Linked DNA regions of Homo sapiens: region 1 is linked to region 2. Evidence: fine-mapped expression QTL. Tissue or cell type: whole blood. Region 2 holds a variant in brackets; the other region holds the start of a gene. All regions are shown on one strand. Distances are between the middles of the regions.

What was found. PIP is the estimated chance that this variant, and not a neighbour inherited with it, causes the effect.
Region 1: it holds the start of PBXIP1, and the variant in region 2 is fine-mapped to the expression of PBXIP1 in whole blood (INTERVAL, PIP 0.98).

The regions. Positions count from the first base shown.
Region 1 is chr1:154,953,848-154,957,847 of GRCh38, forward strand. PBXIP1 (PBX homeobox interacting protein 1) reads right to left here and starts at 2,252. Exons shown (of 11, transcript NM_020524.4): 1 at 2,222-2,252. PYGO2 (pygopus family PHD finger 2) reads right to left here. Exons shown (of 3, transcript NM_138300.4): 3 at 3,179-4,000.
Region 2 is chr1:154,902,380-154,906,706 of GRCh38, forward strand. No RefSeq gene overlaps it. Among named protein-coding and RNA genes, the nearest start is that of PMVK, 32 kb to the right of the region's middle. The variant T/C (reference allele first, on the strand shown) is at 2,250.

The sequences.
Region 1 (4,000 bases), 51 kb after region 2:
GCTGGGCAGCAGCCTCCAGAACCAAGCCTGGTTCCAGTCCTTCTCTCCCTGACACCCCAGCTCTTCTAAGCAGTATTTGCCTTGCAAATCAGAATCTGCCAACACCCACAGAGAAGCCAGCCTCTTCCAGGGACCAACAGGGCCTTGGAAAACTGAACTGACCTTGAAAGGTCAAAGTAGCATAGGCTGGAAAGGCTCTGGGGAATTCCAGTCCAGCCCCCTGACATTTGAGTCAGGGAAGATGAAGCCCAGCAAGGTTGACAGACTCAACTTGCCAATAAGAAGACTTGTTAATAAGAAGAGCAGGGAAACAACACAGCCCTCCCTTCACAACACCAGGTACCTACACAATCACTACCTTCTCCCCCAGGACCTGGAAGGGAAGACTCAATGGCCTCCTTCAGCCCTAAGTGTCCCACCACTTGCCCAGCATAAGTCCTTGGTATGGTCTAGTTCAGTGGTTCTCAATCTTGGCTGCACATTGGAATCACCTAAGATTTTGATTCAATTGAGTTGGGGGGTAGGCCCGGCTGTGGGTCTTTTAAAAAACCACTCAAATGATTCTCATGCGCAGCCAGGGTTAAGAGCCACTGGCATAGCTTAGATCCACCTGGATGCACCTTTTATAAGTCTCCTCATCACTCTCAGTCTTCATCCTAAATTCTGTTTACCTTCTTAGTAATCGCCAGAGTTTGGTCTTAGGGAACTTGAAGGTGACTGGGAAAATGGATTTATGGCAACTATCATGTATATATACATCACTTTATAGCTTGCAAAAAATAGACAAAAATCAGGGCTATGGTCCTGCACCCGGTTAATCTGCTCTGACTTGACAGGGATAGGGGAGGGAATCACTCCAGTTTCCAAAGCCTGACTGACACAAAGCAGGGTAAGAAGAGAGGGATCCGCCCCTTCATCCAAGGCTAAAACAGTTCCCTCAGGCAGCTCCTGTTGGGACCAGGCATAAAGGTGGAAGGATAGATGAGCTGACCTCTCAAGAGTACTGGATTGTGATCCCTCAGAACAGGATAAATGACTGCTTCCCGAGCACTTTATAAGAAAACTCAGGAAAAGGGAAGTGAGGCTGGGAGAGTATGGCAGTTCTACCTTTGAAACCAACCACATTATCCCCTTCTGTTTGAGCTGTTTTCAAGTCCTGCGTGGTGCCCTAAGTAACCTCCTGTGGCTCCTGCCAGTCAAGATCCAAGTCCTGGATAGGTCTTTCCCAATGCCCATCCTCCCAGACACATGCACCCATTCCACACGGAGACAGGAGAATGGCTGCAATGACCTCCCTGTACCAAATCCAACAGGACACCCTGGCATGCATCTGTAAGTATCCATAGAGCCATGGCTGTTCAGCCTTCCGCTTGTGGCTCCACCCCCGCCCTTGTTATCATCTCCCCATCCCCAGTTGCTGACTGTTAACAGGTGGTGGCAGGAAGGAAGTGGCAGCAGCTTGGGCTGAAGTCCCTGTTTATCCCTAGCTGTGTGTGCAGCCTGCTCAGGTCCTCTAGAACCAGGCACCATGGCAACCACAGTGATGTCAGACCCACTGTCTCCATGGAAACCAGCAAAGGTATTTGGGTCAACAAAACAAATACTTATGAGACCCAAATAGGAGACACTCTGAAACTCCTATACTCTGGGTTCCAAACCCTGATACCTCTTTCTTGGTTAGGTTAACCCAGGGTTCAAAAAAACACCTCTTCTCCCAAGCCAGCATCTCACTGCCTTATTAGGAAGTTCCTTCTGCTGTCTAATCTCCACCCTTCCCTGCTGTGTTTCCAGATCTTTTTCTTTTCATCGACCTTCTGGAAGAAAACCCACCTCCACTCCCTCCCTCCACCCCCTTCTTTTCATTCAGGCAGGATTCAACAAACACCTCCTGTAAGGATTATGACAGAGACTTCTGCTATTTCTAAAAAACAGCTAAAGGGGGAGCTCTCCCACTCAGCATAAAGCTAGGAAGTCTCGCCTCTAGTTAATTTAAACTCCTCTAACAGTTGCTCCTCCAAACCGCTAAAGCAAAGGATCTAGGGCCACTTGCCTGGGGTACCCAGAGCAAGTTCCTGTTGTGTTAGCGTCGGCACCTGGCCTTCCTCCCCCAGCCCAGAAATGAAAAGCAGCTCATTCCTTCTAGATTAGTTCCGCCTTCCCTTTTCCTTATTCCACCCCCTTCAAAGCGAATCTGTGGACCCCTTCCCAGCTAAGGCATTACCTGAACCAGCTCTTGCTTCGGTCTTCAGCTTAACTTGTTGCAGGCTTCCCTTTGTTTGCAGCCCGAGAAGAAAATCATGTGACCAGAAACTGACCAATGAAAAGTCAACTTCCCCAAGGGGGCGGAAACTTTTGGCCAATAAGAGCAGGAATTGAGAGCCAGGGGAGGGGAAGGGAGGTCTAGCGACACGGCCCTAAACCTGGGCTTACCTCCTGGTGGGCGACCGGGGTCCCAGCTAACCGAATCCTGAGTTTCCTGCCCTTCTTTCCCAGTGTCTAAACAGTTTCTAGAGGGAACCCCCACAAACTGAGAGAAAAGCAGACGGTGCCGTCTTCTGAGATGACGAAGACAAGGGGCCAGGTTGGCCCCAGGATAGACAGAGACAGCTGTGAGATGGGGGAAGGGAGAGGGACAGGTCGCAAATCCAGGGTGTGGAAATAGCCCTCCTGCCATTCTCCCCAATCTGCTCCAAAACAGACTGCTTAAAAGATGCCATTGCTACTTTAAAAAACGGTTGGGGGACGGGAACGATCTGAAAAACATCCCAAAATGAAATTTGCTAGGACAGAAGCAGCCCCTCCCCTCACCCTTAGAGCGACACTTGCTCCCTAACCCAAACAACTGGGAGGTGGGTGGGGTGCTAAACCCAGAAGAGCTCAAGCACTTGTCTTCCAGAGGCTGTGGTGCCAAATCCGCCTGGCTCCAGGCCTGGCCCAGGAATATGCTCAAAAAGGAAACTCAGTTTCTCACAGTGGAGACACAGGGGGATGGGCGGGGAAACACAGGCCTCCCTTGGCTCAGCAGCTTATACCAGGGTCAGCTCAGGGGCCAAATCTGCCATTCCCACTCCCAGGGACCCTGGGGAGCATACATATCCTCAACCCCTAAGCACCCTACCCAGCAGTGACAGCGGCTCATTCCAGCCTTTTCACACAGCAACAGCAAGGAGTCCTTGTCTGGGATTTTAAAATCATTTTATTAATCCAACAGTACAAAAGACCCCCACCACCACCGCATTCTGCCATCACTTTGTTCCAAAAAGTAGTGGAGTGAGAGAGCGAGAGGGAGCAGATCCAGCAAAAACACTCCCCCAGGGGCCATTTTACAAAATGCGGAGCAGGGGAAGACAACACAAAAACAGCAACAGATAAATGGGGCAAACAGAACAACAAACACAAGAGTTGAGCAGCGGGGTGGGGGTGGGGGGTTGCCATCTACGCCGTTTTAGTGTGAGGGACACTGGGAACGATGCCCAGAGGCTGCTCTCCTCCCAGCCTCAAAGGTTGTCAGCTCCACCAGAGCAGGGTCTTCTCTCCTCATGCCAGGAACTGAGAGAAGTGGGGGTAGGGGACCACTAGGTCTTTGCCACTGTATCTTGAGCTGGGGGACTCCTAACTTCTCCGAGGGCCACACCCCATGCCTGCCTTCCCCACCCCATGGAGGAATGTGTGCATGAACAGAAAAGGAGAACGAGCAGCGCTAAGGTCCTCATCAGGCCCCAGGCCCATCTCTGGCAGGCAGTGCTTAAAAAATAAAAAAAGACAAATAAAGCCCAGTGCAGGCCTTTGGCTGAGAGGAATGAGAATTGCTAATTAATCACCAGGCCCAAGAGGATATGAAAGAATAGCAAAGAGAAGCAACAAACTCCAGGCTCTTCTACCTTTGAGTACCATGGCAATGAGGATCCCGCCGCATCCCCTACCCACAGGCTGTGACAGGGCCTCACTTGGATCCTTTTATCATGGAGGAAATGAGGTATAGGGCTCTGCGCCTTTTCAA
Region 2 (4,327 bases):
AATGCCCAGATTATAATTTGGCATCTCTCACAAGTGACAGCCACCATTCTGGTTTTACCCTTTTCTGGCCACTCAGCCCAGTGTGACAAAAGCCCTTTCCTTCATTCCCCACAGGACAGCAGAGAATGGGCTGCCAATACCACCCTTAAACTTAAGCAAAAGGACCCTTCCCTGAACCCACACACATGCACACACACACACATACATACACACAAACATTGTTAATGAACGCAGGTGACTTGGAAATTCCACTCCTAGGTATATCCCCAGAAGAACTGAAAATATGGCCAGGCGCGGTGGCTCATGCCTGTAATCCCAGCACTTTGGGAGGCCGAGGCAGCCAGATCACTTGAGGTCAGAAGTTCAAGACCAGCCTGGCCAGCATGGTGAAACCCTGTCTCTAGTTAAACACAAAATTAAAAAACAAAAAATTAGCCAGGCATAGTTGTGCATGCCTATAATCCCAGCTACTCAGGAGGCTGAGAGAGGAGAATCACTTGAATCCAGGTAGTGGAGGTTGCAGAGAGCCAAGATCACACCACTGCTCCCCAGCCTGGGCAGCACAGTGAGACTCTGTCTCAAAAAAAAAAAAATTGAAAATTCATGCCCACACAAAAACGTGTACATGAATGTTCATGGCAGCATTATTCATAATAGCCAGAACCCTAATGGCCATCAACTGATGAATGGATAAACAAAATGTGGTGTATCCATACACTGGAATCTCATTCAGCCATGAAGTACTGACATCTGCTACAATATGGGGGAGCCTTGAAAATATTGTGCTAAGTGAAAGACATAAGTCACAAAGGACACATATTCTACAATTCCATTTATATTAAACATCCAGAATAGGCAAATCTATAGAGGCAGAATGTAGATTAGTGGCTGCCAGGGGGTTGGGGAGGGGAGAATGGGAAGTGACTGCTAATGAGTACGGGGTTTCTCTTGTACTGATGAAAACATTCTGGAATTGGTGGTGATGGTTGCACAACTCCGAATTGTACTAGAAACCACTAAAGTATTCTCTTTAAATGGATGAATTTTATGGTATGTGAAAATGTTACAATAAATCAAACACACATGGCTGGGAGCAGTGGCTCATGCCTGTAACCCCAGCACTTTAGGAGGTCAAGGTGAGAGGATCATTTGAGCTGGGGAGGTTGAGGCTGCAGAGAGCTGTGACCATGCCACTGCACTCCAGCCTCGGTGACAGAGTGAGTGAGACCTTGTCTCAAACACACACACACACACACACACGTGCAGGTACCTCATTCTCTCAGGAGCTGAACTCAGTGCTGGCACAGGGCACCACATAATCCTAACATCTTCTTTTGTGACTAACATTTCTGCACATCTCTCACCTTATGTCTTCAAAACAAAGGCAACGAAATCCGAACGCTGTAAAGGTGTGTGGGTTGCCGCACAACCAATGTTGCTGATGAACTCTGCTTTAGAATACAGGGAAGATTTCAGTGGAGAATTGTTTCAGTAAAAGAAAAGACAAATGAATTAATTTGTCAAACCCTTTTATATAAGCACAACATATCTTTCACCAGAAGGGCTGAATGTTCGTTTTCTTCCTTCCCTTCCTGTTTCAAACACGACTATGGAAGTATTCGTCGACTACCAGAGCATTCTTAACTGTTGTGCACAGTAGTTGAGGAATATTTTCAATATCGAATAATTTGTATTATGGAGCCAGGCATGCTGGCACATGCCTGTAATCCCACCTACTTGGGAGCTCAGGTGGGAGGATCATTTGAGGCCAGAAATTTGAGACCAGCCTGGGCATAGTGATTAGTGAGACCCTCTATGAAATTTTAAAATAATAATAAAGAGTATGGTGCTTAGCAAAATACCTAAAAATAAATAAATAATTCTTATTACTCTTAAATTAGTAAATATGTAGGCCTAGATGTAAATGCATAAAGCTCAATTATTACATTGGCTGTGAGGTAAATACTAGATATTGAATACTAGAATTGGAAATAGTTTTATTTTTGTAAAAACGTGTAATAAAATTTAAATTTTTGTAAAATCAAATTTAGAATAATTGTCTTTATTCAAAAAATTTGCTTTCAATTTTTTATATTCATTTATTTAAACCAATATTTTGCCTTTTATTTTAATAGATAAGTTGATGCCTTTGGCTATTCAGATTGTTATAACAAATTATCTTGGATTAGGTAATTTATAAACAACAGAAATTTCTTGCTCACAGCTCTGGAGGCTGAGAAGTCCAAGAT[T/C]GAGACACCAGCAGATTCAGTGTCTGATGAGGGCCTATTCCTCATAGCTGGTGCCTTCTATGCATCCTCACGTGGCGGAAGAGGGGAACAAGCTCCCTCAGGTCTCTTTTTTCCTCTCTCTTTTTAATCTTTTTTTTTAATTTTTAATTTTTCTGGGTACATAGTAGGTGTACATATTTGTGGGTTACATGAGATATAAGAGCTGAGTGATACAGGCGTGCCATACACAATAATCACATCAGGGTAAATGGGGTATCCATCACTTCAAGCATTTATCCTTTGTGTTACAAACAATCCAATTATATTGTTCTAGGCTTTTTTGTTGTTCTTTTTTTTTTTTTTTTTTTTTGAGACAGGGTCACCCAGGCTGGAGTGCAGTGGAGCAATCTTGGCTCACTGCAGCCTCAACCTCCTGGGCTCAAGTGATCCTTCCACCTCTCAGCTCCCCCTGAGTAGCTAGGATTACAGACACACACCGGCACACCTTGCTAATTTTTGTGTGTTTTTCGTAGAAACAGAGTTTTGCCATGTTGCCTAGGTTTTGTTATTTTTAAATGTACAATTTTGTTTTACTATATTCGCCCTGTCGTGCTAGCAAATACTAGATCTTATTCATTCTTTTTTTTTTTTTTTTTTTGAGACGGAGTCTCGCTCTGTCACCCAGGCTGGAGCGCAGTGGCGCGATCTCGGTTCACTGCAACCTCCACCTCCCAGGTTCAAGCGATTCTCATGCCTCAGCCTCCCAAGTAGCTGGGACTACAGGCATGCGCCATCACGCCCGGCTGATTTTTGTATTTTTGGTAGAGACGGGGTTTTGCCTTGTTGGCCAGGCTTGTCTTGAGCTCCTGACTTCAGGTGATCCACCCGCCTCAGCCTCCCAAAGTGCTTAATTTTGGCCTCCCAAAATTAAGCCTCCCAAAGCTACCTCGCCCAGCCTTAATTTCTTAGTGTTTTACATTTATTGCAATGTATATTTTAATGAAAAATATTCAGATTCTATACTTTTTAGAAAAAATGACTTTTATACTTTTATCTAGATCATTACTATCAACAGCACACAAATTAGGTGAAGATCTTCATCAAATTAATATAATTTGTGATTTTCTAAAATAAAGGCAAGAAAAATAAACGTTATGGAAAAATAGAATAATTTATAAGTGACATTTACCTTCATTACTTATGCAATCATCTCTGGCACATTAATAGAACATCTAGACATATACAACAATAATTAAATTCAATCAATTTTGATATGTTGGCAACTTTGAGTTACATATTTTTCAGCTTTGTCATTATAAAGGTATATTTGTCAAAGTAGGAGGTTAGAATATATATACATATATATGAACATATGAATATATATGTGAATATATATATATATATATATATATATATTTTTTTTTTTTTTTTTTTTTTTGAGACAGAGTCTCACTTTGTTGCCCAGACTGGACTGCAGTGTTGCAATCTTGGTTCACTGCAAACCTCTACCTCCCCGGTTCAAGTGATTCTCCTGCCTCAGCCTCCCGAGTAGCTGGGATTACAGGCATGAGCCACCACGCCCAGCTAATTTTTGTACTTTCAGTAAAGATGGGGTTTTACTATGTTGGCCGGGCTGGTCTCGAACTCCTGATCTCAGGTGATCCACCTGCCTCGGCCTCCCAAAGTGCTGGGATTACAGGCGTGAGCCACTGCGCCCAGCCACATTTTATTTATTTAACAGTTTGTTAGTTTTATTTATAACTTTTTTTTTTTGAGACAGGGTCTCACTATGTTCTTCAGGCTGAACTCAAACACCTAGGCTCAAGCAACCCTCCCACCTCAGCCTTCCTAGTAGGTAAGAGTACAGGCGTGAGCCTGGCTTATTTATAATTTTTGAATGTTTAGACATCTAGTATGTAGGCCTCTTGTTCCAGCCCCACAAATGTGAGGGGCAGTTCCATAGGCCACACCTCAGACTCTTACTAAGGATCACGGAAGGAAAGCACAAGGCCGAGGAGAAACAGCTCCAGCTACTAGAGATGGCGCTACTCTCAGGGCCCCAGGCCCACCACCACGATGAGCTCCCAGCCAGCCCACAG